Linked DNA regions of Homo sapiens: all the other regions are linked to region 4. Evidence: fine-mapped expression QTL. A gene starts in region 4. Each other region holds a variant in brackets. All regions are shown on one strand. Distances are from middle to middle.

What was found. PIP is the estimated chance that this variant, and not a neighbour inherited with it, causes the effect.
Region 1: its variant is fine-mapped to the expression of CDR2 in whole blood (INTERVAL, PIP above 0.99).
Region 2: its variant is fine-mapped to the expression of CDR2 in whole blood (GTEx, PIP above 0.99). The same link has a PIP of 0.9 or more in lung.
Region 3: its variant is fine-mapped to the expression of CDR2 in whole blood (INTERVAL, PIP above 0.99).

The regions. Positions count from the first base shown.
Region 1 is chr16:22,149,478-22,157,581 of GRCh38, forward strand. It overlaps VWA3A (von Willebrand factor A domain containing 3A), which reads left to right. Exons shown (of 34, transcript NM_173615.5): 29 at 310-454; 30 at 1,218-1,369; 31 at 3,034-3,157; 32 at 6,090-6,187; 33 at 6,374-6,439; 34 at 6,555-7,487. The coding sequence ends at 6,425. Among named protein-coding and RNA genes, the nearest start is that of SDR42E2, 9.0 kb to the right of the region's middle. The variant A/G (reference allele first, on the strand shown) is at 4,538.
Region 2 is chr16:22,123,931-22,132,034 of GRCh38, forward strand. It overlaps VWA3A (von Willebrand factor A domain containing 3A), which reads left to right. Exons shown (of 34, transcript NM_173615.5): 17 at 2,248-2,367; 18 at 7,275-7,349; 19 at 7,655-7,799. Among named protein-coding and RNA genes, the nearest start is that of SDR42E2, 35 kb to the right of the region's middle. The variant A/G (reference allele first, on the strand shown) is at 3,185.
Region 3 is chr16:22,411,982-22,420,085 of GRCh38, forward strand. It overlaps the pseudogene RRN3P3. Among named protein-coding and RNA genes, the nearest start is that of CDR2-DT, 41 kb to the left of the region's middle. The variant T/A (reference allele first, on the strand shown) is at 4,935.
Region 4 is chr16:22,370,415-22,378,518 of GRCh38, forward strand. It overlaps CDR2 (cerebellar degeneration related protein 2), which reads right to left and starts at 4,205. Exons shown (of 5, transcript NM_001802.2): 1 at 3,817-4,205. The coding sequence starts at 3,895. CDR2-DT (CDR2 divergent transcript) reads left to right here and starts at 4,473. Exons shown (of 3, transcript NR_148970.1): 1 at 4,473-4,809; 2 at 4,913-5,146; 3 at 7,727-7,766. RefSeq lists a silencer at 3,738-3,967 and enhancers at 4,508-4,587, 4,928-4,977.

The DNA.
Region 1 (8,104 bases), 220 kb before region 4:
CAAGCAATCCTCCCAGCTTGGCCTTCCAAAGTACTGGGATTACAGGCACAGGCCACTGTGTCTGGCTTGGGCTGGGATTTAAATCTATTTCTGTCTGCATTCAAATTGTCAGTGTGTACCCTCTCATTCTCAAGAGGCCCCACAGCCCTCTCCCTGAGGGGCCACAGGGCTCGTTGTAGGGGTCTTCAGTGACGAGCAAGAATAGTCCTCATGAGGGTAACTTATCTGAATTCAATCTAGACAGGCCTGTTCTAACCAATCTCTTTCTCCCCTTCTCTGCCCCTCACCTCCTCTTTTCCTCCTCCCCAGTTTTAACCTGCTCAGCTTTGCAGAGAGCTTTCAGTCATGGCAGGACACGCTGGTGGAGACCACAGATGCAGCGTGTCATGAGGCTATGCAATGGGTGACCCACCTGCAAGCTCAGGGCAGCACCTCCATCTTGCAAGCATTGCTGGCAAGTCCCACCACGGAGCCCGACCTTGACGCAAAACAAATACCATCATCCCCTATGCTGATGCTGCACGATGCTTTAGGATTTACAAAGGGCGCTTTATAATTTACAAAGCACTACATCATTTCATCTTCCCAACACCCGAGTGAGAAAAGGATTCTCAATGTTCTCACATTATAGATGAAGACACAGGCTGGGTGCGGTGGCTCACACCTGTAATCCCAGCACTTTGGGAGGGCAAGGCAGGTGGATCACCTGAGGTCAGGAGTTCAAGACCATCCTGACCAACATGGTGAAACCCCGTCTCTACTAAATACAAAAGATTAGCCGGGCGTGGTGGCACATGCCTGTAATCCCAACTACTTGGGAGGATGAAGCAGGAGAATTGCTTGAACCTGGGAGGCAGAGGTTGCAGTGAGCCGAGATTGCACCATTGCACTCCAGCCTGGGCAACAAGAACGAAACTCCATCTCAAAAAAATAAAAATTAAAAAAAATAGATGAAGACACAGAGGCTCAGAGAGGTTAAGTGACTTGCTTGGGATTAACCAGCTAGGCAGTGAACCATGCTATTTCTCCTAAACCTCAGCAGCTTCCTTAGTCTGTCTGAGGCTGAAAGAGAATCTCAGTCTTTTTGAACAGGTCAGTGGCATCCAATCAGATGCATTTTGGCAGAGGCGGCAGCAGGCACTACCTTTAGGCATTTGGTTCTTGTGTTCTGGGTGAGCCTCTCCCCTGAGCCTGACAGCCTTCCTGCGTTCTTTCAGAAAGCTTTCAGTTTCCATGATCTGGAAGGATTGTACCTCCTGACCGACGGAAAGCCAGACACAAGCTGCAGCCTTGTCCTAAATGAAGTCCAAAAACTCAGGGAGAAAAGAGATGTGAAAGTGCACACCATTTCCTTGAACTGCTCAGACAGGTGCGCAATATGGAGTCTGACTGAGTTTTATTCTTTTTCCACAGCCACACATCTCAGCAGGGAGATCCAAGCCCCTCACCTAATCTAGCTGCTCACTTAGACACGGGTTTCTCCTGGGCCCTAATCCTGTAAATCAGAAATTAGGAGAAGCGGCCGGGCATGCTGGCTCACGCCTGTAATCCCAGCATTTTGGGAGGTTGAGGCAGGTGGATCACTTGAGGTCAGGAGTTCAAGACCAGTCTGGCCAACATGGTGAAACCCTGTCTCTACTAAAAATACAAAAATTAGACAGGTGTGGTGGTAGGCGCCTGTAATCCCAGCTACTCAGGAGACTGAGACGTGAGAATCACTTGATCCAGGGAGGCAGAGGTTGCAGTCAGCGGAGGTTGCACCATGGCACTCTAGCCTGGGCAACAGAGTGAGACTGTCAAAAAAAAAAAAAAAGAAAGAAAAGAAAGAAGTTAGGAGAAGCATTGTTTTTCTAGACGGCCCAAGCCGGTGTCACACCACAGGGTGAAAACCCCTCTCTTTACCCAGATATTTCCCTCTGACTTCCTCCAGCCTGGAAACACATTTGCAAGGGATTCACACAGTCATTTTACAGTCTCCCTCCTACTCTTCCCTGGGATCACATTTGTGAATATTTAGGGGACATTTAGGGGAAAAGCCAGAGAGAAAAATATTAATGTAGCATTGTCATGGTTATTTTTTTTTATAAACGATCACTATAGACCATGTGCTATGACCGGGCACAATGGCTCATGCCTATAATCCCAGTGCTTTGGGAGACTGAGGTGGGAGGATCACTTGAGGCCAGGAGTTCGAGACCAGCCTGGATATCATAGCAAGATTCCATCTCTACAAAACAAAATAAAAATGTGAAAAAGAACACATGTCAGATAAGACATACTCAGCTCCTTCAAAAAAAAAAAAACTTTATTATTAGCAAAACAGACTGCATAGGGACACATTTTATCTCTTGGTCTAAACCATGAGCCCCATAAGTGTAATATGTGTGTCCTTTACAGGCCTAACACATAGTAGGCACTGGATAAATGTCCCATAAATAAATGGGGGCTAGGCTGAGCACGACGGCTCATGACTGTAATCCCAGCACTTTGGGAGGCCAAGGCAGGCAGATCACCTGAGGTCAGGAGTTCGAGACCAGCCTGGCCAACATGGCGAAACCCCGTCTCAACTAAAAACATACAAAAATGAGCCGGGCGTGGTGGCAGGTGCCTGTAGTCCCAGCTACTCAGGAGGCTGAGGCAGGGGAATCGCTTGAACCTGGGAGGCTGAGGTTGCAGTGAGCCAAGATTGTGCCACTGCACTCCAGCCTGGGTGACAGACTGAGACTCTGTCTCAGAAAAGAAAAGAAATGGGGGCTGGAGTGTGTGGGCTGTGTGGTTTCAGGGGGTCCAGGCTAAATGGTGACACTCACACGGGGACTCCTCTTCCCTCAAGCAGCAGCAGTTGCTATAGCTGTCCAGAAGCTGGTGGGGAAAGTGTCCTCTAATGGTGGTCTCCATGGGACAAGCCACGGCCCATTGCCAGGCTGATTTCTCTTAAGCCCCACGGACTTAAGTTCCCCATGGACGTGGGGAGTCACACGAACTTGCCTGGTCAGTCAGCCTTCCCACCAGCCCTCTGTCCCTTCCTTCCAGAGCGGCGGTTGAGTTCCTGAGAAAGCTGGCTTCCTTCACCGGCGGACGCTATCACTGCCCTGTGGGTGAGGACACACTCTCCAAAATTCACAGCCTGCTGACCAAAGGCTTCATCAATGAAAAGGTAGGTTGCAGAGCCACTGAGCATGAGGTCTGTTGAAACGGCTCGATAAAATATCAACAGGCATGGGGTTTTCCTTCTTGAACTCCTGGGCTCAAGTGAACCTCCCACCTCGGCCTCCCAAAATGTTGGGATTACAGGCATGAGCCACCACGCCCATCCTGGGTTTTCCTTCTGACGAAAAAGATCTCTGCTTTTCGTTGAGACAAAATATTAGCTGAAAAGGATTGGGTTTCCCTGCTGCTGTCCTTTTAGGCTGACTCTCCTCAAGGCTGGGAAAGAAGCAGGATTTGAGGGTGTTATATTTCCTGATGGTCAGGCCAGTTTGCCTTTGTTGGAAATTTATGTGGCTTTATGTAGATAACCTCTTTTAATATTATACCCATTTAACAGGTGAACGAGAGGGCCAGCAAGGTTTAAGAATACACCTAAAGCTGGGCACGGTGGTTCACACCTGTAATCCCATCACTTTGGGAGGCCGAGGTGGGTGGATCACTTGAGGTCAGGAGTTTGAGACCAGCCTGGCCAACATGGTGAAATGACGTCTGTACTAAAAATACAAAAATTAGCCAGGCATGGTGGCATGCACGTGTAATCCCAGTTACTCGGGAGGCTGAGGCAGAATTGCTTAAGCCTGGGAGACCCAGGTTGCAGTCAGCCGAGATTGCGCCACTGCACTTCAGCCTGAGTGTCAGAGCAAGACTCCGTCTCAAAACAAACAAACAACAACAATAAAAACTAGTCAGAGGAAGTGGTATAGCTAGAGCCCCAAGACACCCATGATCTTAAACTTTGTGCTTTAATTCCTGCATATTTGTGTCTTCTGGGGTTCAATTCATTGAAATACAGACATTCAAGTTATCTGTTAAGCAATAGATCTGGCAAAGTCATAGGTTATCTATTAAGTAATAAGTCTAGTAAAGTCATAGATTTCAATGATCCACTTCTGACTTAATAGGAAAATTCTGCACTTATTTATACCTTTTAGGAATGCAATGTTGTCAGTGATAACATTCCCAGCGCAACAAATTATCAAGTAAGACAACCAATCAGAATTCCAGATTTCTTTTCAGAGGTTAAAGGTTACTTTCACAGGACATGGCATAATTTTTTTTTTTTTTTTTTTGAGACAGGGTCTCATTCTGTTGCCCAGGCTAGAGTGCAGAGGAACAATCACAGCTCACCACAGCCTCCACCTCCTGGGCTCAGGCAATCTTTCCACCTCAGCCTGCAGAGTAGCTGGGATCACAGGTGTGCCACCACGCCCAGCTAATTTCTTTAATTTTTTGTAGAAACAGGATCTCACCATGTTGCCCAGGCTGATCTCAAACTCCTAGGATTAAGTAATCCTCCCGCCTGAGCTTCCCAAAGTGTTGGGATTAC[A/G]GGTGTGAACCGTCAGGCTCGGCTGGCATAATCTTTGAAGCCTGGGTAGCCTTACATGACTCCTTTGGTTCAACTAGCTCTTCTAGGGACAAGTATTATAAATAATACAGAGAACTGAACAAATTGGTAAAAGTAATGAATATTCACCCAAGCGTCCTTATTACACAGGAAAACAAGTGATGATATGTTTAAGGCTCTCAGCTTAATTCCTTATCCAATCAGATTCTCTGAATTGTTTTTGCATGCAGAATGGGATTGCTGTGCTACTACTGCCAGGCAGAAGGGATGGCTTCCTCTTTTTTCTTTTTCTTTTTTTTTTTTTTTTTTTTTTTTGAGATGAAGTCTTGCTGTGTCACCAGGCTGGAGTGCAGTGGCATGATCTCAGCTCACTTCAGCCTCTGCCTCCTGGGTTCAAGTGATTCTCATGTCTCAGCCTCCCGAGTAGCTAGGATTACAGGTGCCTGCCACCACACCCAGCTAATTTTTATATTTTTAGTAGAGATGAGGTTTCATCATGTTGGCCAGGCTGGTCTCAAACTCCTGACTTCAAGTGATCCACCCGCCTCAGCCACCCAAAGCGCTGGGATTGGTAAGATGTATTTTTAAGGATAGGTGGCGAAATTTTATTAGTTAACATTTTTTTTAAAAAGCATGCCTCAGCCGGGCGCGGTGGCTCACGCCTGTAATCCCAGCACTTTGGGACGCCGAGGCGGGTGGATCATGAGGTCAGGAGATCGAGACCATCCTGGCTAACAAGGTGAAACCCCGTCTCTACTAAAAATACAAAAAATTAGCCGGGCGCGGTGGCGGGCGCCTGTAGTCCCAGCTGCTCGGGAGGCTGAGGCAGGAGAATGGCGTGAACCCGGGAAGCGGAGCTTGCAGTGAGCCGAGATTGCGCCACTGCAGTCCGCAGTCCGGCCTGGGCGACAGAGCGAGACTCCGTCTCAAAAAAAAAAAAAAAAAAAAAAAAAAAAAAAAAAAAAGCATGCCTCAGCCAGGTGTGGTGGCACATGCCTGTGGTCCTAGCTACTTGGGAGGCTGAAGTGGGAGGATAGCTTGAGCCCAGGAGGTCGAGGCTACAGTGAGCCGTGATCACGCCACTGCCCTGCAGCCAGGACAACAGAGCAAGGCTCTGTCTCTAAAATCAACCAAATAAAAAGCATACCTGTAAGTCTACTTCACTAGAAGAAATGCAAAAAATGGCTGAACAGATTCTACTGAATAGCGCTGAGATAAGGAAACGGTGTCATTTCTGTTCCACTGGACCAGAGTGGGGCCACTTTCACTCAGATTCTGACACCATCGTACTTTGCCACCGTCCCCTCCCTACACTGACTCTCAGACACCATATTTCAAAGTTTCCCCTTTGCAGAATGACTGTCTTGATAGGTAGTGAGCTTCCTGACCCTGGAGATATACAAGCAGAGGCTCACAAGATTTCCTGCACTGGATGGAAACCAGAACGTGATTAGCTCTAAAATGCTTTTCCTGAGATTTTGGATTTTCAGCTCCCATCCAGTCATAAACTTCACACTCATTTCCTCTTTTCAAGGATCCCACATTGCCACCATTTGAAGGAGATGATTTAAGGATCCTGGCCCAGGAGATCACCAAGGCCAGAAGCTTCCTCTGGCAGGCCCAATCCTTCAGGTATGCCCTTCACGCAGCCTCTCCGGCCTGCCATGTGGCTACAGCCCATGCAGACCCCGGACCCCATCGAGAAGGGCCGCACCCATGATGGTACCCTTGCTCCAAGGGTTCCTGCCCTGCTTCTCCCAGCCAGCCCAGAAATCTGGGCACCAGGGAGACCATCTTTCTTCATCTCCTGCCCACCAGATCCCAACTCCAGAAGAAAAATGATGCAGAACCAAAGGTCACTCTTTCCTAGAGAAGTGTTCTCAGGTAAGGGGAGGGGCTAGACCCCATACTACCTGAGTGTGCACTAAGCACCAAGTGGCATGCTCTATTTTGTGGTCAATAATAACTTTGGTTAAAAAATAATGATTCCTCTAAACAGAAAAGTCATCCTGCAAAGGACCACTCACTGAGCAAATCTCAGCCCCGAGGGCAGGATGGGATGAAATGCTGTGACCTGCAGGAAACATGATTCCTGGTACCAGGACTCTCTGGAAGCTGAGGAAGGAAAGACTTTGTCTTTTGTGTGAGGGGCCATTCCCGGGTCTTAATCTAACTCTCCAGCCCTGTCCCGCAGCGCACTCTACTCTCCAGCCACTAGATTGTCCCTCTCTGGGAAGCCCTAAACCAACCCCCTGCCTAAATGGTGGTGCTTCTTGCAAACCAACCCCCTGCCTGAACGGTGCTTCTTGCCCCCTCTGCCTGGAGACTCCTGCTCATCCATCAAGGCACAGCTCAAATGACATCAGCTCCCTGGGACCTATCTAGAGCGAGGGGCCTCCAGTCTTTCTCTTGCAGCATCCTGACCACGCAGACCTCTCGCACTCAGCACTCTATGTCACGCCACCTTGCTCGCTGATCTAACTCTTCTCCTTGATGGTGAGCTCCTTCGGGATGAGACTGGTGTCCCAGGATCTGCAGGTCCCCAGAAGCTGCCACATAGGAGACACATGGTGAACAGTGAGCAGGCGGCTGAGCTGTGAGAGCCTAGCTCTGGAAAGCAGCTGATGGGGTGGTCTCCACCCTGGTTCATAAGAGGCTAATGCAGAGTCACAGTCAGCCCATCCTGGGGGAAGAAGAAACAAGTGAGCCTCAGCACCACCCTCCATCCCTGCCCAACCAAACTGAAGTGAAGGCTGCTCATCTGGGTTCATTTTCTAAAATTAAAAACAATTAATTTTATTCTACTAATAGGATCAACATGACTTTAACTGTTTGAAGTGATCATTGGCGTGTGTGTGTGTGCATAAATTTTTAGTGACATAAAACTTTATTAAAAGACTCATACCATAATAAAGAATTTCAATAAGAAAAAGATAAACATCCATTTTTTTGTTTTTTTTGGAAACAGAGTCTCGCTCTGTTGCCCAGGCTGGAGTGCAGTGGTGCAATCTCGGCTCACTGCAACCTCCGCCTCCTGGGTTCAAGCAATTCTCCTGCCTCAGCCTCCTGAGCAGCTGGGACTACAGGGGCCTGCCACCACGTCTGGCTAATTTTTGTTTTAGTAGAGACAGGGTTTCATTATGTTGGCCAGGCTGGTCTTGAACTCCTGATCTCAGGGGATCTGCCCGCCTTGGCCTCTCAAAGTGCTGGGATTATAGGCGTGAGCCACTGTGCCTGGCCCATCTCAATTTTTTTTTTTTTTTTAGGCACAGTCTCACTCTTTTTGCCCAGGCTGGAGTGCAGTGGCACGATCTCAGCTCACTGCAACCTCCGCCTCCCAGGTTCAAGCGATTCTCCTGCCTCAGCCTCCCGAGTAGGGTAGCTGGGATTACAGGTGCCTGCCACCACGCCCAGCTAATTTTTTTTATTTTTATTTTTAGTGGAGACGGGGTTTCACCATGTTGGCCAGGCTGGTCTCAAACGCCTGACCTCAGGTGATCCGGCCCGACTGAGACTCCCAAAGTGCTGGGATTACAGGCATGAGTCACC
Region 2 (8,104 bases), 250 kb before region 4:
TGGGGAGGCCAAAGCGGGAGGATCGCTTGAGGCCAAAAGTTTGAGACCAGACTGGGCAACATAGTGAGACCCTGTCTCTACAAAAAATAAAATAATTAGCTGGGCATGGTGGTGTACACCTGTAGTCCCAGCCACTTAGGAGGCTGAGGCAGGGGCAGGCGGGTCGCTTGAGTCCAGGGGCTCAAGGCTGCAGTGGGCTATGATCGTGCCACTGTACTCAAGCGTGGGCAACAGAGCAAGTCCCTGTGTCTACCACAAAAAAAAAAAAAAAAAAAAAAAAATCACACCTCCTCCCTGGCCAGAGCAAATGGGTCATGGATGAATAGATCCTCCCACCCAGCCAGAGGTGTGATGTTCTGATTGGCCAGGGTCAAATGCCCATCCCTGGAGCTTGGAGTAGGCTCAGCTTCACACAACTCAAATTGACTGATAGAGGCAGAGGTGTTTCCCAAAGGAAAATCAGGATGCTGTTGCCAGATGAGGTAATGGATGCTGAGTTGGGAGAAACAATAGTTATCTATTATGGCCATTATTATGATTCCATACCTTGTTTGATGAATTAACATTTACAAAGTATTATATTTTGTAATACTATACATCTATTATTATTATTATTATTATTATTATTATTATTATTATTATTATTAGAGACAGAGTCTTGCTATGTTGCCCAGGCTGGTCTCAAACTCTTGGCCTCAAGCGATTCTGCTGCCTCAGCCTCCCATCATGTTAGGATTGCAGGCATGAGCCACCGCACCTGGCCACTATACATCTATTATGTAATTTTGTTCTTGAAGCAACCCTATGATGAGTCTTACAAGTAGTTTATGGTTAAACTACTTAAACAAAGATCAGAGAGGTTTTGTGACTTGCCTAAGGCCACACAGCTGGTAGGAAGCGGAACTTGAACCAAGGTCTTCTGACTGTAAATCCCATAGATTTTCTTTTGCTATCCATAGCTGTCTCAAAATGAGAATGGGGCAGAAGGTGGGAATATAAGTTTGAAGTTCTAAAATTAGAGAAAGAACAAATAAGGCTAGAGATCTTAAAACAGAAAGAGAGCAAACAAAAAGATAAAAATATTTTCCAAGAGGCCCAGATACACCTAATTCCTTATGTTACTTGCTCACCTGGTTTTCGTTTTCCCTACGAAGACCCCAACCTATGGCGGGCATAGTGGCTCATTCCTGTATTTCCAGTACTTTGAGAGGCCAAGGCAGGAGGATCACTTGAGGCCAGGAGTTCAAAACCAGCCTGAGCAACATGGGCAGACCTGGTCTCTACAAAAAAAAAAAAAAAATTTAAATTAGCCAGGCATGGTGATGTGTGCCTGTGGTCCCAGCAACTTGGGAAGCTGAGGCAGGAGGATCTCTTGAGCCCAGGAGGTTGAGGCTTCAGTGAGCCACGATCGCACCATTGCACTCCAGCCTGGGCAACAGAGAGAGACCGTCTAAATATATATATATTTGTTGTGTGTGTTTTGTTTTGTTTTGTTTTGTTTTGTTTTGTTTGAGACGGAATCTCGCTCTGTCACCCAGGCTAGAGTGCAGTGGCGCGATCTTGGCTCACTGCAAGCTCTGCCTCCCGGGTTCATGCCATTCTCCTGCCTCAGCCTCCCAAGTAGCTGGGACTACAGTCGCCCGCCACCACGCTCGGCTAATTTTTTTTATTTTTAGTAGAGACAGGGTTTCACCATGTTAGCCAGGATGGTCCCAATCTCCTGACCTTGTGATCCGCCCGCCTCGGCCTCCCAGAGTGCTGGGATTACAGGCGTGAGCCACCGCGCCCGGCCTTATATATTTGTTCTTGAAGCAACCTTATGATGAGTCTTACAAGTAGTTTATAGTTAAACTACTTAAACAAAGATCAGAGAGGATTTGTGACTTGCCTAAGGCAATATACATATATATTTTTTCATATTCTGACCTATAAAAATATTGAATGCTAATTCTTTAAAATAAATCTGTGAAAATCATTATATGAAGCGCCTACCACTTAAACCATCTCCACCATGAGGCTTTATTCCATTAAAGCACCTCCTGGGAGAGAAGGGGGGCTTCCATGACCCCCTTAATCTACCATTGTAAGCCCACATCCGTTGGCCTCAAACCACAGAGAAGATTTTGGCCAGCTATGAATTTGGCATGCAAAATTCCCCTGGAAAAAAACTTTAAATAGTAAAATGGAACAAAATAAACATTATCTCAGAGATTCGGTTCTCCTCTTAAAGCTCGTGTTTCCTTTTAGGGTGGTTGTACTGCTCGATATCTCTGCGACCAATTCCATGTACATTATTCATATCCAGCACTCCCTGCGGCTGCTGCTGGAGGAGCAGTTATCCAACAAGGACTGTTTCAACCTCATCGCGTATGTGTCTCCTGGCTCCTGGGGGCAAGGGTGGGTCGTGTGTGTTTGGATGCCGTCATTGGGCTGAGGCTTTGGACGTTGCTGGACGATAGATATTGACGTCATGGTCACCCGGCTTCCTAGGATAGCCATCGGTTTATCTGATTTGGATGATCTTGTTTGGGGCATTGAATAATTAAATAGTTGCAGGACTGTCCTACTGGGGCGAAGGTGGTAAGTGACCCCATAACACACTGCTTGATCAACCAGGATAAAGTAATTCAGCCCATTGGCCCATTTGGCTTCCAAGATGAAATAGGAAGAAGAGGAAAGGAAGGACCCCAGCCATGCCCTAGTGTCAGTCCTCAGCCTGTCTCCAGCAAGCCATACCTTTTCAAACATTTAGGATTCCAATTCTGAATTTAAATTAAAACTGTATATATAAATTTGGCCAGGTGCAGTGGCTCACGCCTGTAATCCCAGCACCTTGGGAGGCCGAGACAGGAGGATCGCTTGCATCCAGGAGTTTGAGACCAGCCTGGGCAACATAGTGAGACCCCATCTGTGTTTTAATAAATAAATAAAATTATATGTATACATTTAATTATGTGTATATATATATAAATGGTATGCAATTTTTAAAACTGTATAATTTAGAATTAAATACAACAAAGATCAGAGAGGTTTTGAAGATTTGAACTTACTTCAAAATTATATATAGTTTTAAAATTATATATAGTATATATAGTTTTAAAATGTTAATATAGTTTTAAAATTATATTTTATATATAATTAAATATAGTACATATCTAGCATTTTTAATTTAAAAACTATATAT[A/G]TAGTTTGTTTTTGGTTTTGTTTTTGTTTTGAGATGGAGTCTCGCTCTGTTGCCCTGACTGGAGTGCAGTGGCTTGATCTAAGTTCACTGCAGCCTCCTCCTCCCAGATTCAAGCAATTCTTCTGCCTCAGCCTCCCAAGTAGCTGGGTCTACAGGCACACACCACCACACCTGGCTAATCTTTGTATTTCTAGTAGAGATGGGGTTCACCATGTTGGCCAGGCTGATCTTGAACTCCTAACCTCAAGTAATCCGCCTGCCTCAGCCTCCTAAAGTGCTGGGATTACAGGCTTGAGCCACTGAGCTCAGCCATAAAAACTATATATATAGTTTTTTAAATTGCATACTATTTTAACTAATAAGGGAAGACAGAGAGAAAAGGAACCCACTTAAAGTGTAGGTTTTTATACAACCTCATACCAAATAGGGCATTTTCTAAACCTATTAAGTCAACAGTTAGTATTAGATATTATTCTGTACCAGAGCCCAGTCATTCCTTAATAAACTCTATATAAAAATATTTATGGTAACATTATAGATAAGGAATTTTATTTATTTATTTACCCATTCATTCATTCAGCAATGTTTCATTGACAATCTGCATGAACCAGTCCCTGTGCCAGGCACTGGGGAGATGGACATGAAGACACACAAAACTCATCCTCGAGGAACTCATGGCCTAACAGTGGGAGACAGGGATGTTAAGGAGTGCTGTTAAGCGTTTTCTATAGAAATGAGTAGATAGCTAGGTATGGGACTGCAAGGTATCAGTGGCAGGATCAGTCCATTCCACTTGGGTGGAGTAGGCTCAGGACATCTTCATGGAGCAAGTGCCCCTTTTGCTGAGTCTTGATGAATAAGTAGATGTTTGCCTAGCACCTGGGAATGATGGGGTCCTAGGGAGAAAGGGTGTTCCAGGTAGAGGCAACAGCATGAGCAGAGGTGTGACGTATGCTAGAACCTTAGGGACCATCAGGTAGTTCAGCATGGATATGGGGCTGAGAGGGAGAGATTGTGCATGACAGAAATACCAGGTGATGGAGGATTGATATAGGCCATGCTCACGAGTTTCCTGTGCTATAGGATATAAAGGCACTGGAGGATTGCAAGCAAGGTACAAATACAATCGGGTTTGCGTCTTCAAATGCTCAAGCAATGCTGTGAAGGAGGAACTGAAGGGATGTAATACTGGAGGGAAGAGACCAGTTTGACTATTGCAATTGCCTGCCCTAGTGTTGAGTGGGCTTGAGCCAAGGCAATGTGAATGGAAGAAAGAGTGCGTGGCCAGTAAGAATGCCATATTAAAGTCAAAAAATAACAGGTGCTGGCGAGGTAGCAGAGAAAAAGGAGCACTTACACACTTGGTGGGAGTGTAAATTAGTTCAACCATTGTGGAAAGCAGTGTGATGATTCCTCAAAGACCTAAAAACAGAACTACCATTCAAAGTAGCAATCCCATCCCTGGGTACATACCCAAAGGAATATAAGTCATTCTGTCATAAAGACAAATGCATGTATATGTGCATTGCAGCACTATTCACAATAGCAACAGATGGAATCAATGTAAATGCCCAGCAGTGGTAGACTGGATAAAGAAAATGTGGTATGCATATACCACGGAATACTATGCAGCCATAAAAAAGAATGAGATCATGTTCTTTGCAGGAACATGGATGGAGCTGGAGGCCATAATCCTTAGCAAACTAACACAGGAATAGAAAATCAAATACAGCATGTTCTCACTTATAAGTGGGAGCTAAATGATGAGAACACATGGACACATAAAGGGGAACAACACACACTGGAGCCTATTGGAGGGTGAGGGTGAGAGAAAGGAAATCAGGAAAAATAACTGATGGGTACTAGGCTTAATACCTGGGTGATGAAATAATCTATATAACAAACCCCCATGGCAGGAGTTTACCTATATAACAAACCTGCACACGTACCCCTGAGCCCAAAATAAAAGTTAATCAAGAAAGAGGTGCATGGAGGCTGGGTACAGTGGCTCACGCTTGTAATCCCAGCACTTTGAGAGGCCGAGGCGGGCGGATCACGAGGTCAGGAGATTGAGACCATCCTGGCTAACACGGTGAAACCCCATCTCTACTAAAAATACAAAAAATTAGCCAGGCGTGGTGGTGGGCACCTGTAGTCCCAGCTATTCGGGAGGCTGAGGTAGGAGAATGGCATGAACCTGGGAGGTGGAGCTTGCAGTGAGCCGAGATTGCGCCACTGCACTCCAGCCTGGGCGACACAGCGAGACTCCATCTCAAAAAAAAAAAAAAAAAGAAAGAAAGAAAGAAAGAAAGAGGTGCATGGAAGAGATTTTGGGGAGTTAGAATCTACAGAATGTCATCACTGGCTGTAGGGGGTGAAAGAATGGTGAAGAGAAGATGATGTCCCAAGAAGAACAGATCTCTGAAGGGAAAGATGGTTTTAAACATCCCGAGTCTGAGACACTCAAGAGTTTGGAGACATTAAGAGGAGGAGGAGCTCCAGTGAGGAGACCTAGCCAAGAAATAAGGGGTTTTGAGCCATCAGCATTTTGATTCTATGAATGAAATAAATGGTAGTGCAGGGATCGCACCTGTGGAGATGCGAAGAGGAGAGAGAAGACAATCAAAGGCAGCACTTGGAAGACACCAGCATTCGAAGGGTGGGCAGAAGAAGGGAACCACCAAAAGAACACAAGAAAGAAGAACCCAGAGAGGTGGGAGGAAAACAAGAGAGAAAGGTGTTGGGATGCTGTGTTAGTCCATTCCTGCACTGCTCTAAAGGAGTACCTGAAGGTCGGGCGCGGTGGCTCACCCCTGTAATCCCAGCACTTTGAGAGGATGAGGCATGTGGATCACTTGAGGCCAGGAGTTTGAGACCAGCCTGGCCGACGTGGTGAAACCCCGTCTCTACTAAAAATACAAAAATCAGTGGGTCTCAGCGGTGCAGGCCTGTAATCCCAGCTACTCAGGTGGCTGAGGCATAAGAATCACTTGACCCAGATTTATTATCCAACGATAATAGGGATATATTTCCACTGGTGGGGGAATGGAGGGCATTCTTTATCTCTACCAGGGAATGCCCCCAGGGTGGAAGTTTGACTGCAATAGGTTGAGGAGGTGAGGAAGTGGTGGTATACTGTGTTTCCAGGGAGCTTGTCCACAAGGGGAAAGAGAAAAGAGCGAAGTCACTCATAGAGTAGCTTCCCAGGGGAAGGAGGATGTTCTTGTTAAGTATAGAGAGTCTGAAACAGGTAGAGAGGCGCGGGGCAGAGGGAAGTGGAGAGAAGTTGGGAATGTGTGGATGTGAGGGAGGAACTGTGGGGCAAAGTCTCAGAAGAGATGGGTGATGAGGTCAAAGGCCAGGTGGAGGAATTAATCTCAAACTAGAGAGGGGACAACTTTTCCTTCATAAAGGGTATAAATCCTCTTCTCAAAGATCTTAAATTCTGTCTTACAGGACAAATGAGACAATGTGGGTTTTCTGGATTTGAGGATTTGTTTGTTTTTTGAGATGGGATCTCACTCCATTGCCCAGACTGGAGTGCAGTGGCACAATCATAGCTCACTACAGCCTCAGCCTCCTGGACTCAAGTGATCCTCCCACCTCAGCCTCCTAAGTAGCTAGGTTGACAGACATGTGCCACTATACCCAGCTAATTTTTTTTATTTTGTAGAAATGGGGTCTTGCTATACTGCCCAGGCTAGAGGTATATTTTTTTTCTTTGCCAAATCCTGTTGATTACATAGATGTGTATTTAAAAAAAAAAAACAAACTATAGTATGGATAGGGAGGGGAAATGTGCAGTGAGAGAAGCCATGCTAGGGGAGGTTAAAGAGGGGGCCACACGCCATAGCTCAATGCTTCAGAAAGGAAGCTGACCAAAGCTGGCTCACACTGTGTCTTGGCTGAAGTATGTTGGGACATATGACCCACAAGGAAATCTCATGGCTGGCCCAGGCCAGTGACATCCTCACATTTTAGGGGATCTCATCAGAATTTTGTCCCCACTAAAAGCCTGCAAAGCCCAAAGAGGTGGGCCACCAAGTGGACCTCCCCCAGCCTAAGAACGAACTCTCTTTGCTTCTTAAAGGTTTGGAAGCACAATTGAAAGCTGGAGGCCTGAGATGGTTCCCGTGAGTCACAACAATTTACAAAGTGCCTGGCGGTAGGTTATGGGCAGAGACTTCGTGGGGCTGTGTCTGAGGGAAGGTTTGCAGGCATTGTTTTCTCTGTCCCCCTCTCCACCAAGAAGTAGCTCTCTAGAGTCCCTGACCCCAAACAGCCATGGGCAGAAATCAGAAAACAGCTTCCTTCTGTCTGCTGCTCTCCCCACCTGGCCATCTTCACTTTATGAGAGTGATGACATCGACTCCATCACGTCTGAGATGGAAAAGGCTCTCAGCTACTCCCAAAAGGTATGCCCTGGGCATGGGCCAATGACCCTCAGCATGGCCATCTCTGCCTCCGCAGGTGGGCCCTGAACCTGCGGTGTCGGGGCAGCAGGAACGTTCTCAGCGCCCTGCGGAAGGCTGTGGAAGTAGACTTCAAGGACAAAGACAAACACCAATCGCAGGGAATCTACCTCTTCACTGGGGGCATCCCCGACCAGGACATGGTGGGTAGGCCACGTCCTGGGTGTCCATTATCCTTTGCGACCTCATCCGTCTTCCCCCAGGTGGATACCTTGCCAAGGTTTCTGCAGCATGATTTCTAAACCAGTGCTTCTCAAACTTTAATGTATAGACAAGCACCTAAGGATGCTGTTAAAATGCAGGCCCTGGAGACCAGCCTGGGCAATATAGTGAGACCACATTTCTGTAAAAATTTTTAAAATAACCTGCCATGGTGGCACATGCCTGTACTCCCAGCTACTCAGGAGGCTGGGGTGGGAGGATCTCTTGAGCCCAGGTGCTCGAGACC
Region 3 (8,104 bases), 42 kb after region 4:
ACATTTTCTTTTCTTTTCTTTTCTTTTCTTTTTTTTTTTTTGAGACCGAGTTTCGCTTTTGTTGCCCAGGCTGGAGTGCAATGGCGCGATCTCGGCTCACCGCAACCTCTGCCTCCCAGGTTCAAGCAATTCTCCTGCCTCAGCCTCCTGAGTAGGTGGGATTACAGGCATGCGCCACCACATCTGGCTAATTTTGTATTTTTAATAGAGACGGGGTTTCTCCATGTTGGTCCGGCTGGTCTCGAACTCATGACCTCAGGTGATCCACCCACCTTGGCCTCCCAAAGTGCTGGGACTACAGGCGTGAGCCACCATGCTGGGCCAAACATTTTCAAATATACAAAAAAGTTTTAAAAGTTACACAGTAATCTACATTCAACTATTTATAACCTACTGTATTAATTTTATCATGTATTAATTAATGTATCCATCCTTCTGTCAATTAAACCATCTTATTTTCCTCACAACTTTTTATTATAAAATTTTCCAAATATAAAAAAAGTTTAAAGAAAATTACAGAGAAAATACATGCATATACCCACTTCTTAGATTCATCAATTGCTGACATTTTACCATATTTGGTTTATCTGTATCTCTGTGTGTATGCATATTCTGTTCTCTGGACTATTTATTTTTATTTTCTATTTTTATTTTTAGAGATGGGATTCTGCTTTGTCACCCAGGCTGAGAGTGAAGTGGTACAATCATAGCTCATTGCAGCCTCAAACTTATTTATTTACTTTTTTAGAGATGGGGTCTTGCTGTGTTGTTCAGGCTGATCTCCAACTTCTGGCCTCAAGTGATCCTCCCACCTCAGTCTCCCTAGTTGCTGGGATTACAGGTGTGAGCCACTGTGCCCGGCCACTTTATATGTTGAAGTTTGTGTCATGTCATGACATAAGGTGCTTTCTCATTCTTCCTTTTTTTTGAGACAGAGTCTTGCTCTGTCGCCCAGGCTGGAGTGCAGTGGCATGATCTCATCACACTGCAAACTCCACCTCCTGGGTTCAAGCGATTCTCATGTCTCAGCCTCCTGAGTAGCTAATTTTTATATTTTTAGTAAAGACAGGGTTTCACCACATTGGCCAGGCTGGTCTCAAACTCCTGACCTCAAATGATCCACTTGCCTTGGCCTCCCAAAGTGCTGGGATTACAGGTGTGAGCCATCACACCTAGCCTATATATCTTTTTTTTTTTTTTTTTTGGAGACAGGGTCTTGCTCTGTCTCCCAGGCTGAGTACGGTGGCTCAATAACAGCTCATTGCAGCTTTGAACTCTTGTGCTCAAGGGATCCTTCTGACTCAGCCTCCCTAGTAGCTGGGACTGCAGGTGCACGACACTGTGCCTGGCTAATTTTTAAAAATTTTTGTAGAGACAGGGTCTCACTAGATTGCCCAGGCTAGTTTGAAACTCCTGGGCGCAAGTGATCCTTCCTCCTTAGCCTCCCAAAGTGCTGGGATTACAGGCGTGAACCACCGCATCCAGCCTTCTCTGAACCATTTTAAGTTAAATTGCAGATCTAGTGGCATGTCACCCCTGATAGTTAACCATGCATCTCCTAGAAATTAAAAAAAAAAACAAAAAAACAGAAAAAATGGCGACTGGACAGTTTTTAGTTTTGAGCGGGGGTAATTACCTGATTTGACTTACCTTTTTTTTTTTTTTTTTTTTTTTTTTGAGACAGAGTCTCATTCTGTTCACCCAGGCTGGAGTACAGTGGTGCAGTCTCGGCTCACTGCAACCTCTGCCTCCTGGGTTCAAGTGATTCTCCTGCTTCAGCTTCCTGAGTAGCTAGGATTACAGGTGTGTGCCACCACATCCAGCTAATTTTTGTATTTTAGTAGAGACGAGGTTTCACCATGTTGGCGAGGATGGTCTCGAACTCCTGACCTCAGGTGATCCGCCTGCCTTGGCCTCCCAAAATGCTGAGATTAAGGTGTGAGCCACCACGCCCAGCCTTGACTTACTTTTTAACAGCCTCCCTTGGGGTGCCAGCCTCCCTTGGGGTGCTGTGTAACGAATAGACTGAAAGGAGTTAGGAGAAGTCACATGGAAGAACCTGTTGATTAGTGACATGAGTTACAGCACAATTGATGGCAGCTAGAGGGGGTGAAGTCGAAAAGTCAATCAGGGCTGATGATGTGAAGGATCTGTACACTGGATTTAGAAGATGTATGTGCTTTTAATCCTATACATTAGGGTTTCACAAATATGATGAATTTTTGACATTTGTTATATGAGTACTCTATGTACTAATATTTACTCAGTATTTTTCTTTAAATTTATTTTAAATCACTAACTTAAAACAAATCTTAACTGCCATAAGAAAAAGCAACCATAAAATCATTCATTTGGTAGGTTTCAATTTTTCTAACGCCAGTAAAATAAAAAGAAATGGCTGGTGGCTCACTCCTGCAATTCTAGCACTTTGGGAGGCCAAGGCATGATCACCTGAGGTCAGGAGTTCGAGACCAGCCTAACCAACATGGTGAACCCCCATCTCTACTAAAAATACAAAAGTTAGCCAGGTGTGGTGGTGGGCGCCTGTAGTCCCAGCTACTCGGGAGGCTTAGGTATGAGAATCGCTTGAACCCAGGAGGTGGAGGTTGCAGTGAGCCAAGATTGTGCCACTGCACTCCAGCCTGGGCTACAAGAGTGAAATTCCATCTCAAAAAATAAAAAATAAAAATAAAAAGAACTATTATGTATCATGTAAAAATTATCATGTGTGCCAGCAGGGGTCCAGATGCTGTACTTTGGGAAAGACCACTCTAGGTAAAGGGAAATCACTGAAGATTTGAATGCATGAGACAAACATCATCTGAGCCAGGCATAGTGGCTCACACCTGTAACCCAGCACTTTGAGAGGCCGAGGCAGGTGGATTGCTTGAGGCCAGGAGTTCAAGACCAGCCTAGCCAACATGGCAAAACTCCATCTCTACTAAAAATACAAAAATTAGCTGGGCGTGGTGGCATGCGCCTGTAGTCCCAGGTACTCGGGAGGCTGAGGCACAAGAATCGATTGAACCAGAGAGGCAGAGGTTGCAGTGAGCTGAGATGGTGCCACTGTACTCCAGCCTGGGCAACAAAGCAAGACTCTGTCTCAAAAAAAAAAAAAAAAAAAAGAAAGAAAGAAAAACATGATCTGAATTTTGTTTTAGAACAATCTGTTTATAGTGTAAAAGAAGCACTGAAGGCTTAATTACTAAATGGAAAAATGAAGGCTTAACTACTAGTTGCCTACTATATCATAAGTGCTCAGAATATGAAGATAAATAAAATAGGTTGCTGCAACTAGCTGTTTACAATCTAGTAAAGGAGACAGACATGAGGAGAGATTTTTGCAGCACGAAATAGTAGATACTATGATTAGAAGTATATATAAGATATAATGGTGGCTAAAAGGTGGGCATGATCATCACTGTCTTGGGAACCAAGTCCAGGAAGGCTTCACAGAAAAAAAAATGCTTCAGCCAGGTTTCAGTGGAGGCATAAATACTGTGCATGGGGCCAGGTGCCATTGCTGATGCCTGTAATCCCAGTGCTTTGGGAAGCTGAGGCAGGAGGATCCCTTGAGGCCAGGAGTTTGAGACCAGCCTGGGGAACATAGCAAGATCCCCTCTCTACAAAAAATTGAAAAATTTGCCGAGTATGGTGGTGCACAGCTGTAATCCTAGCTACTTGCTAGGCTGAGGTGGGAGGATTGTTTGGGCCTGGGAGTTGGAGGCTGTAGTGAGCTATGATTGTGCCACTGCACTCCAGCCTGTGTGACAGAGCAGGATCCTGTCTCAATAATAATTATAATAATAATACTGTGCATGGAGATTGGATGTATCCAGTGAAGAGAAACAGTATAGACATATGTGCAACGCATAGATGTGTAAAATGATACAGCATTCATTCAACAAATATTAACACCTACTACGTACCAGGTCCTGTGCTAAACCCAAAGGAAAAAGAGGAAAAGATGCAGCCCCCACTCTGAATAAGCTCACAGTCAATTATAGTGAGAATCTTAATGTTGGATGCTAGGTGCTATTACAGATGTAAGTGTGGGCTGTTGAGGGAGTGCCCACTGGCTTAGCATACAATTCAGACTGAGGAGAAAATAAATGATCTCTCTAATGAATTTTGAAAATTCATAGTAGCAGGGAGTCTGTGCAAGCACAGAGAGGCATGAGGTTGTAGGACATGATTGGAGGAATGGCTGATGGTTTAGTAGTAGAGCTTGAGAAGTGTAGACCTGATCCTAAAAGGAAAGGAGCATTATAATTATTAAACCAAGAAGTAATAATATCAGATTTGCCTTTTAAAAGATAACCCTGGGCTGGGCGTGATGGCTCACGCCTGTAATCTCAGCACGTTGGGAGGCCGAGGTGGGTAGATCTCTTGATCTCAGGAGTTCGAGACTAGCCTGGGCAACATGGTAAAAACCCATCTCCACAAAAAATGCAAACACTAGCCGGGCATGGTGGCATGCACCTGAAGTCCCAGCCACTTGGGAGGCTGAGGCAGAATAATTGCTTGAACTCGGGAGGTGGAGGTTGTAGTGAGCCAAGATTGCGCCACTGCACTCCAGCCTGGACGACAGAGCCAGACCCTGTCTCAAAAAATAAATAAGTAAAAATAAAACATTAGGCCGGGCGCGGTGGCTCACGCCTGTAATCCCAGCACTCTGGGAGGCTGAGGTGGGCGGATCACGAGGTCAGGAGATCGAGACCATCCTGGCTAACATGGTGAAACCCCGCTTCTACTAAAAATACAAAAAGTTAGCCGGGCATGGTGGTGGGCGCCTGTAGTCCCAGCAGCTCGGGAGGCTGAGGCAGGAGAATGGCGTGAACCCGGGAGGCAGAGCTTGCAGTGAGCTGAGATTGTGCCACTGCACTCCAGCCTGGGTGACAGAGCAAGACTCCGTCTCAAAAAAAAAAAATAAA[T/A]AAATAAATAAAATAAATAAATAAAATAAAAGATTACCCTGAAGTGTGTTTTGAAGGGATGTTAGCTGGATTGCAAAGAACAGTTAGAAGGCTAACAAAGTGATTTTATATGAGGAATGCTGGTTCCACTGGTTAATATTGTGCATGGGGCCAGTGTGGTGGCTCACGCATGTAATCCAAGCCCTAAAGCAGTGGAAGACAGAAGGCAAGAGGAGACTGACATGAGAGATTAAGGAGTTAGAACCGCAGAACTCAGTGGTATCTCATTATAGAAGCATGGCTCAAAATTGGGTAATTGTGGCTAAGAAATGAGTATCTGAATGAAGGAAGTGAATGTGGACTGTCCTGGACCGCATTTCTTCTGTAGAATGTAATTCTTCCTCAGACTCATCTTCTCCATTTTCGAGGTGACTGTTTTCCACCTGAACTGGGGACATTGCTTGAAATCCAAGTAGCAGTAAAAGCCTCAAGCAATATTGTAGTAGAAAACCCTGGTGATGGTCAAGTGTGGTGGCTCTCATCTGTAGCTCTCATCTTCCAGCACTTTGGAAGGCCAGAGCAGGAGGATCACTTGAGGCCAGGAGTTTGAGACCAGTCTGGGTAACATAGCAAGACCCCATTCCTACAAAAAAAATTTTTTTTAATTACCTGGGACTGGCCGGGTGCAGTGGCTCATGCCTGCAATCCCAGCACTTTGGGAGGCCGAGGCAGGCAGATCACAAGGTCAGGAGATCGAGACCATCCTGGTTAACACAGTGAAACCCCATCTCTACTAAAAATACAAAAAAAATTAGCCAGGCATGGCGGCAGGTGCCTGTAGTCCCAGCTACTCGGGAGGCTGAGTCAGGAGAATGGCGTGAACCCGGGAGGCAGAGCTTGCAGTGAGCCAAGATTGCGCCACTGCACTCCAGCCTGGGTGACAGAGCCAGACTCTGTCTCAAAAAAAAAAAAAAAAATTAGCCGGGAGTGGTGGCACATGCCCATAGTCCCAGCTACTTGGGAGGCTGAGGTAGGAGTATCACTTGAGCCCAGGAATTCGAGGCTGTTGTGAGCTATGATCTCACTACTGTACTCCAGCCTGGGCAACAGAGTGAGAGCCTGTGTCACAATCAATCAATCAGTCATTAGGCTGGGCTCTGTGACTCATGTCTGTAATCCCAGAACTTTGGGAGGCTGAGGCAGGCAGATCACCTGAGGTCAGGAGTTTGAGACCACCCTGGCCAACATGGTGGAACCCTGTCTCTACTAAAAATACAAAAATTAGCCGGGCGAGGTGGTGCGTGCCTATAATCCCAGCTACTCAGCAGGCTGAGGCAAGAGAATCATTGGAACCCGGGAGGCAGAAGTCACAGTGAGCCAAGATCACGCCACTGCACTCCAGCCTGGGCAATAGAGCGAGACTCTGTCTCAAATAAATAAATAAATAAATAAATAAATAAATAAATAAAATTAAAACCCTGGTGGCTAAAAGAGGACAGGAACAGAATCTGGAATAGAAAAGACCCAAAGCCCTGTATTTCCTGTTATAGCTTATTTGCTGATAGATGTCAGAGCAATGGAGGAATGGCAAGTGTGTTTTTAACCTATCTCTCTGAATTTTCTTTGTATTCTCAAAGAACACGAAGGCCCTAAAGCAATAGTTCTCAACCTTGTTGCACATTAGAATCACTTGGAGCCTGAAAAAGTCCTGATGCCCAGACCATACCCTAGACCAGTTAAATCAGAATGTCTGGGGCGTGAGATCCAGGCATATGTGTTTTTTTAAAATATAAAACAATACTTCATTTCCTTTATTACCTAGTTGTATCGTTAAAATAAGAACAAATACAGTGGAATGGAATACTTCATATGACTTCATGTGAAAAATACTTCATTATACAATAAACAACCCTCATGCATTTCAACATTGCCACCAGTAACACTAAAGACTCCCAGTTCTATTCATATGTGATCATCACTGCCCTACACCCCAACCCCAGCTCCTCCAAGCTTCAACAGGCATCAGTATTTTTCGTAGCCCCTGGCTTATTCCATCATGCAGCCAATGTGGGAATCTAGAGATTGACTTCCTTGGAAACAGAGGCTCTAGAGACTAATTCTTATTGGCTCAGCTATAGACACGTTGGCAGCCAGACACGTTGGCACACTAGTCTCATGGTACTATAAGCATTTTTTAGAGGTATAAACTCAAACAGCACACTCAAGTGTCATTTATCTTTGAGTGATAATTTAACAGTTGGCATTTGGTGGCCCCACATAGCTAATGCTAATCTGAAAGTGTCCAACTGAAGTCCACAGGTTAATTGCACACTTAGCAGGATATGGTGTGATGATCAGAGAATTCTTTGAGATTCACCAGTGTAAAGAATTTAGCAAAAATGTGGCTGGGCATGGTGGCTCTCGCCTGTCATTGGATCCCTTGAGTCCAGGAGTTCAAGGCCAGACTGGGCAACATGGTAAGACCCTGTCTCTACAAAAAATACACAAATTAGCCACATGTGGTGGTGCACACCTGTAGTTCCAGCTACTCAGGAGGCTGAGGCAAGAGAATTTCTTGAGAATTTCTTGAGCCCATCAACAGGTTTTGAATGTTCCAGTCTTTTTTTTTTTTTTTTTTTTTTTTTTTTTTGAGTCAGGGGTCTCATTCTGTCACCCAGGCTGGAGTGCAGTGGTGCGATCATGGCTCACTGCAGCCTCAACCTCCTGGGCGCAAGCCATCCTCCCCTCTCTGCCTCCTGAGTAGCTGGGACAACCATGCCCGGCTAATTTTTTTTACAAGACCACTGTTAAAAGCCCGGAAGAATCCTGCAGCTCGCTGTGGTGGGCTGTTTTGCGTGTGCTAGAGTCTATTCAGCATTTCAGACAGAAAAGCCTCAGCATTCCTCTTCTGTGGGTCTCCACCGTAGCTCCTTTGAAATCTCTGCTTTCTCACACTTTCCCATCTGAGTCTTTGTGCCATGGCCGTCCCCTCCTCTCCAATACGAAGAGCCCACACTCAGTTTCCCTCCCTCCTCCTCCATCCCACACTGCCCGAGCACCTCACCTCCCAATGACTGACTCGTCCCCGGTCTTGCACACACCTGGGGAGTGTAGCTGGCCTGTCCTGCACACCAGCCTTGCAGGCTCAGTGAGTAGACCATCCTTGTCTGCTCTTGCCGGGTGCAGCTGTG
Region 4 (8,104 bases):
CATTTACTGATCCACATAACAGAAACCTGAATCCTTATTCTAAGTTTGCACAGCTCACCAAATGACAATAGCAGCTGGTTTAAAAGAAAATCCAGTCTCTGAAGTCTTTCCACCTTGTTCTCAGGGGCATGTTTCAAAGCAAGCACCATCATTACCTGCACTGAAGGCTCCTGCTGTCCCAGAAAAGATCTTACCCACAGAGATTATTGTCAGTATTCCTACTGAGCCAACTCAGCTCTCTGACAAAAGACAGTCTCTTCATCAAAGAGTTTTGTAACAGCAAAGGGTTTTCTCCTCCTGCCTACACAAAAGCTTTACATGTTTCTAACAAGGTATGAATAGTAGACCAGAGTTTACTGAGGTTAGAAATTTCCAGCAATTTCAATTTAAAAACGGATACCCTAGGAAACTTTGATACAAAGATTCAATCTATTCAGAGCATGGCTTACTACTGCTAAAGGAAAACATTCTATAGTTGTAAGATACTGAGAACAGGATCATTAAAAGTTGTTTTCCAGCCAGGTGCGGTGGTTCACGCCTGTAATCCCAGCACTTTGGGAGGCCGAGGCGGGTAAATCACGAGGTCAGGAGATTGAGACCATCCTGGCTAACATGGGGAAACCCCGTCTCTACTAAAAATACAAAAATTAGCTGGGTGTGGTGGCACGTGTCTGTAATCCCAGCTACTTGGGAGGCTGAGGCAGGAAAATGGCTTGAACGCGGGAGGCGGAGATTGCAGTGAGCCAAGAGCGTGCCACTGCACTCCAGCCTGGGGACAGAGCGAGACTCCACCTCAAAAAAAAAAAAAAAGTTTTAAGCAGTTCTCTCCAAATAAGCCTTGCTCAGTAATAATAATGAGGATGTTAAAAAACGGACAGATGCCTGCACATAAAATCCCACTAGACTTGCTGAATAATCTGTTTAACAGGACAGACCTGCTCCCAAACTTAATTCAGCAGCAAGTGTCTACTGAGGGCCTACAATGTACGAGGCGCTGTAGTGGGCACATCCCATGAGGCGGCACCTCCAGGCTTCTCTAGTGAACAGATTCCTGGAACATTCACTCTATGGGAGTAGGAATCCTACCTATCCACTCATGTGGGGAGGTGCTGTGGCCCCAGGGCCCAGGCGAATACCTGGCAAAGAGCAGATAATACATTTTTGAGAAATGAACAAGTTTTAAAATCTGTTAAAAGTTTAGGAGTTAACATATAACTTAGCAAAACTGGGGAAAGGATACCCTTTTATTCACACTGTAGCCTTTATTCTTTGACAGGCCATATTCACAAGTTACAATTGTTGGAATTTCACATCTTCTACTCGTACTCCATATAGTTGGTTATGACACAGAGGGTTAAGTCAAAGTCCACTGTGATAACGTAACAGCCCTTTGAAAAACACAGAAATGCAACTGGCAGTAAAGAGGTTCAGATATGTGTGTGTGTGTGTGTGTGTGTGTGTGTGTGTGTGTTTTGAGAGGGAGTTTCGTTCTTGTCATCCAGGCTGGAGTGCAATAGCACGATCTCAGCTCACTGCAACTCCGCCTCCCAGTTTCAAGCAATTCTCCTGCCTCAGCCTCCCGAGTAGCTGGGATTACAGGGGCCTGCCACCACACCCACCTAATTTTGTATTTTTAGTGGAGATGGAGTTTCACCATGTTGGCCAGGCTGGTCTCGAATTCCTGGCCTCAGGTTATATGCCCGCCTCGGCCTCCCAAAGTGCTAGGATTACAGGCATGAGTCACTGCGCCCAGCCCAGACCTGTGTTTTTAAGGTTAAACTTGAAGAGCTGATGACTTTATTTTGATCAGAGGTTAAAGAGAATTCCTCGTGTAACCCTGACACGTTGCACTTGCTGCTCGGTAGATTGAAGTGTTACAGCTGTTGTTCCTAACAACCTCCCACAGCGGGAGAATGCAGCGTGGACTAAGGCACCTGATGGAAGAGAGCCATGAAAACAATTCTGTGCGAGTGCTTCAGTGCAGTTCAACAAATATTAAAATCGAGCTTCCAGTATGTGCCAAGTATTATGCTAGATGCTGGAAACACAAGAAAAAAGAACCTGCCCCCTCTATGCCCTTAAAGATTAATGCTTCTTAAATACAGGAAAGAGAAATATTTAGTTGTGATGATACAAATTAAATTATAGGGAAGTACTGCAGTGGTACAGTGGTTGCCTCACAAATCCTGGAGAAACTATCAAACTAGGCCATCAATCCTTACGGGGAAATCTGAAAACAGGTTTGTTAATATGTATAATAAATTTGTCTCTTGGACATAAAGAAGATGGTGCCAAACACTGCACTGCAACCACTAAGTAGCTTGGACTCTGTAAGTGTAATAAAGGTGAATTACTTTGGTTAAAGTGATTGCATGTTAATTTAAGAAATTATCTTCCTCCAAAAGAGGTGCTCATTTTATTTTCCTTTTCTGAGTTATTCAGGTCTACATTCTTTTCTTCTGCCATGTTCAGTGGTTAGCATGAACAAGCAACATGATCATTTAATATTCAACTAAATGAGATGTTAATTTTCATTGCAAGATTAGAGCTGAGAGCATTTACACAGAATTGCAGAAACTGAAGATGCCTGGAAAAATTCCTGAGGATTGTTCAGTACTCAGTATAGCGGTTAAGAACGTTTGCTCTGGAGTCTTAAGGAGAACCCTAGCACTCCCCAACATTACTACCTCTATTGTGTTACTGGGAGAATTAAATGAGCAACTGTGTTATGGGCCTATCAGTGTTAGGCACATAAAAAGTGTTCCCCAACTGCTAGCTCCTGCTATTAGTATAAGAAAAACAGGGGCCCCACTGGCCCCAAAGAGTGGGCTACTCTACGATTGTTCTCTGGAGACACCATCGGCAGGCCTGTTTCTAAGTGAAAGCTGGCGTGCAAACTGAAGAAAAGTGGCAGAGATAGATGCGCTCTTTCTTCTGTCGTTTCAATTGGCATCTGGTGAACTATGCCTAACAGCTTAACGCCCAACTGAAAAAAACTGTAAACTAGGATGGTAAGGAAGAGATGGGGTTTGAGCAGTGACTACAACTCTTCTTCTGAGTGTGTGGGTTCAAAAAACACTCCCTCCCACACTTAGCTTTAGGCAAGCCACTTTACCGTTTTAATCTCCGCTTTCCTCATATGGAAAATGGGATAACAAAAGTGTGTAATTGGATTGTTTGTACCTCAATGGATAAATGCTGGGATGGACGCCCCGTTCTCCATCACGTGCTTATTTCACACTGCGTGCCTGTATCCAAACATCTCATGTACCCCACAAATATATACACCTACCATGTACCCTCAAACATTAATTTTTAAAAAGTTACTGTCTCCTGGAGTTACGGTGCGGAGCGCACAGCTCCCGCTACGCCGCAAAACAACTACCACCTGCAGCAGCCGGCCCTCCACGCTGGCCATGAAAGGCGCTGGGCTAGACAGCCTGCGACGGGGCGGCTTCTCGGGCTATGCCACTTACTGCGGGACACACTGGCTCACCCGGGTCTGCCTCGGAGGAATGCAGTGAGGATTAAACTAGCTAATCCACGGAAAGCGCTTAAAACGGTGCCTGGCTCGTCCCTGGCCCCCACGCGCCTCGGGGCTGATATTCAACTGCGCATTAGCAAGGCCGTGGGCCCCGTGCCGAGGCTTCCTGCGGGCGGGATCCGCGGGCACGGCCGGCCCAGCCGCCAGGTGAGCCTGAGCCCTTCCCGGCACCTGCATCCTCCGCCGCCACAAAAAGCAACTTTTTAACAGTTTCGCAGCGGGGGCCTCCCGGGCCAGGCCGCCGCCCGCCCGCGGGGCGCCCCCGCCCTCACCTTGCTGGAGGTCCTGGTGGTCGTACCACGGCTCGTCCTCCTTCATCTCAAACTCCTCTACCAGGTTTTCCGCCAGCATCTCGGCTGGGTCTTCTAGGGGCAGCGGCCCCCGCCGCCGTCCCGCCTCAGCCGCTGCCCCGGGCTCTTCCCCGGCCCCTCCGCCCTCAGCCAGAGCCGCCCTCGGGCGGGACGCGCCGCCGCCCAGACTCCGCTGCGCCGCCTCAGCCCCGTTCCCGCCGGCGGCCGCCGACCGGCCGGCTGCCTCGACTCGCCTCGCGCCTACCGACGGCCCCAACGGCCGGGCATTACGGTGCGAACGCCTGGAGCCGGAGTCTCACGCAGCCGCCAGTCTTCACGCCGCCGCCGGGCCCAACGTGGCACTTTGGCAGAACCCTCCCCGGCCGGGGATGCGATTCAAACCCCCGGCGGCGCCTCAACCAATCGCGAGCGGGCTGCTGGCCGAGCGGCAGGGACTTCGTCCAATCGCCTCTCTCCAAAGACCGGCGGCTCGCCCGGTATCGAGGGCAAGCAGCCAATGGTGGGTCCGGAATAAACAAAGAAGGCGGGGAAAGAGTGAAGGGGTGCGGCCGAAAGCCCGTCCCCTGATCTGCGCTGTGAGGCTCCTAGGAGGGCGTTCTGGGTTTCGGGCTGGGGAGCTGGCAGAGGCGCGTCTTACCCCTGTGGTGGGTGTCCCGAGGCCGGCGCGTCTGTGGACAGGCAACGCAGGCCGGAGGGCCTAGGACTCCGGCCTCTGAGAGGCGGGCGGTTGTCCAGGGGAGTCCTTCGTGCCGGCGGGAAGCGCAAGGGTGCCGGAAGCCTGAGGTCCGCCGCCCGGCCACCCCTTCTCGCATCTTGACTCTGAGATTTGCTCCGGGTCCGGCGGGGAGACTCGAGGTCGATCGGGAGTTTGGGTTGAGAAAACGCCCACTGAGCGGTAGCTCTTGTCTCCTTGACATCTGAGCCCTGGGAATTAAACTCACGCTACATAAAACGGTGGGCACCAGACCCCCTTGAGAATCTGGGGCGGTGAGGGATGCCCGAAGCTGTCCACTTGGAGGGCGAAAATTGTAAGCAGTGTTGCAACGATTTTTAAAAGGTACCCCTAGACCACAAGTTAAGCATCTGGGGACGTGACATTGCACCTGGAGGGGACAGGCTGCAGCTCCAGCACTTAGTAGCCAGCGAGGCAGAGCACGCTGTCCTCCACCGACATAACCCAGCAAATACTGCTCCTAGGTAAAGCTTTAAGCACCATCTTGCAGACAAAGCACGGAAACTCTTAAGCAGGATGACAGACCTGAAGGTCAATGTTCTCAACCTTGACGTAAAGGTAAAGGTGCAGCTGATGGAAGACAACAGGGCCAATATCTAACTAACTTTGAGCAACGAAACAAAAAAAAATCGAGGTTTAAGTATACAATTGAAAGATTATCTCTAGAACATGAGGTAATAAACTGTTAGAAATTCAGAGAGAGGGAAGAGGTGGAGAGGAGTGTTAAATCCTGATCTATTTTAGAAGTGAGTCGACAGATAATACCTTACATTGATAATCCAATGAATAGTTTCCACAAATATGGAGAGAGCTGCCAGAACTAAAAATGGGAAGCAATTAAGAGTTTTCCGAGGCTGGACACGGTGGCTCACGCCTGTAATCCCAGCATTTTGGGAGGCCGAGGCGGGCGGATCACCTGAGGTCGAGAGTTCGAGGCCAGCCTGACCAACATGGAGAAACCCCATCTCTACTAAAAATACAAAATTAGCTGGGCGTGGTGGCGCATGCCTGTAATCCCAACTACTTGGAAGGCTGAGGCAGGAGAATTGCTTGAAACCCGGGAGGTGGAAGTTGCAGTGAGCCGAGATTGCGCCATTGCACTCCAGCCTGGGCAAAAACTGCGTCTCAAAAACCAAACAAAAAAAAAAAGTTTTCCTAAGAGGAGGAGTGATTTGAGGCTGGGGACTTTGGCTTTTTGTTATAAACCCTTCTGTGATCTTGCTTTTTTAGTTACTTGCACATTAAAAATAAGGGAAATTGTAGGGAAGGAATTATAGACTCAAGCTACTTTTTTTGTCTTTCTGTATAAAAAAAGACTTGGGTAATTTGGAAGGGGGGAAAAACTCATCCTGAATAATTCTTGTGGGTAATAAAATTCAGGGTGTCTCTCTGCCTCCCATCTTTGCTCAAACCAGCATAACCTAACCTCACGCTGATGCTGTATCAAACAGCACTTGACTCCAGGGTTACCTTACACATAGGCTGTAGGCTACTCTGGAGAAGTCTTGCCAAGGACAAGACCTCCCACTGTGGAGTTGTTACCTGAAGTTTTACCCTTCAGTCCTTAAAGGAGACTGCTGAATAGAGTGGAAAGCACAAGGGACCTAGAGTGAGAAAACCTAGAGTTCTCGCCATACTCAGTACCAGCAGAGAAGCCTTTTAGCAAACAGTTTACAGGAAAGATGATTGTTTGCCTTGCTCACAGAGCTATCTGAATCAGAGAGACCCTGAAAGCAAGTATTTTGTGCTCATTTTAAATGTAAGGCTGTGTTCTTGTGACCTATACTGTAGAAGTGCAGGTACCCTTGAGGACCAATTATGAGCATCACAATAAATAATCATAGTAATGGATTATAACCCATTGAATAAAAAGGAAAGAATCCATGAGTCCATACTGACATAAATAAATGGGAGAGAAAAGAAAACTTTCTTACAGTAGGATGCCAAGCAAAAAATGTAGAAGGAATAACACTGTTAGAAAGTAATAATAATAATAAAAGAGGAATGGTAAACTCACAAATCCCTTTCTTCAAAAAGGCAAAATGTTACTGGCACACCTGTAGTCCCAGCTACTTGGGGGGCTGAGGTGAGAGAATTGCTTGAGTCCAGGAGTTTGAGGTTACGATGAGCTATGATAGGTGACAGCAGAGCAAGACCCTGTCTCAAAAAAAAAAAAAAAAAAAAAAAAAAAAAAGGCTGTGTACAGTGGCTCATGCCGTAATCCCAGCTCTTTGGGAGGCTGAGGCAGGCAGATCACCTGAGGTTGGGAGTTCAAGACCAGCCTGGCCAATAAGGTGGCCCATCTCTACTAAAAATACAAAAATTAGCCGGGAGTGGTGGTGCAAGCCTGTAATCCCAGCTACATGGGAGGCCAAGACACAAGAATCCTTTGAACCTTGGAGGCAGAGGTTGCAGTGATCCGAGACCGTGACACTGTACTCCAGCCTGGGCAATAGAGTGAGACTCTGTCTCAAAAAAAAAAAAAAAAAAAGAAAGAAAGAAAAGAAAGTGAGGTCCTGTAAAGCCTCTTCTACTGCCCTAGTTGTCCATCGAGATATTCAGAGTTGAAATAAGATCACTTCAAACAAACTATCTTAATCACTAAAGATAGAACCCTTTGGAAAGATAGCAAGTTGGATTTAGGAATAATTGGCAATGGTGATTTGTGGAAGCTAAAGGGCTAGAATCATGCAGGGGCATTTTTTTTTTTTTTTTTTTTGAGAGAGTCTCACGCTTGTCACCCAGGCTGGAGTGCGATGGCGTGATCTTGGCTCACTGCAACCTCCGCCTCCTGGGTTCAAGTGATTCTCCTGCCTCAGCCTCCCAAGTAGCTGGGATTAAAGGCGCCCACCACCACGCCTGGCTAATTTTTGAATTTTTAATAGAGATGGGGTTTCAGCATGTTGGCCAGGCTGGACTTGAACTCCTGACCTCAGGCAATCCACCAGCCTCAGCCTCCCAAAGTGCTAGGATTACAGGTGTGAGCCACCGTGCACGGCCCCCTTCACGATTCTTATCACTGATTCGCAAGGTTCAAAGTGCCCGCTGTTTGCTCCATCGAAAACAGAAGCTCATTTTGACTTCAAATGCATATTGAAATGTTCTTTAACAATTCTCCATTTTTTTTTTCTTTTTCAGAGTCTCACCATGTGGCCCAGGCTGGAGTGCAGTGACACCATCTCTGCTCACTGTCACCTCCACCTCCCTGGTTCAAGTGATTCTCGTGCCTCAGCCTCCTGAGTAGCTGGAATTACAGGCATGTGCCACCATATTCGGCTAGTTTTTGTGTTTCAAGTAGAGTCAGGGTTTAGCCATGTTGGCCAGGCTGATCTCAAACTCCTGGCCTCAAGTGATCCGCCTGCCTCAGCCTCCCAAAGTGCTAGGATTACAGGTGTGAGCCACCGCGCCCAGTCAACAATTCTCCTTTAAAAAAGAAAAGAAAAGAAAAGAAAGATATGGAGAATTAAAGTTTTTGAGGGTCAGGCGTGGTGGCTCACGCCTGTAATCTCAGCACTT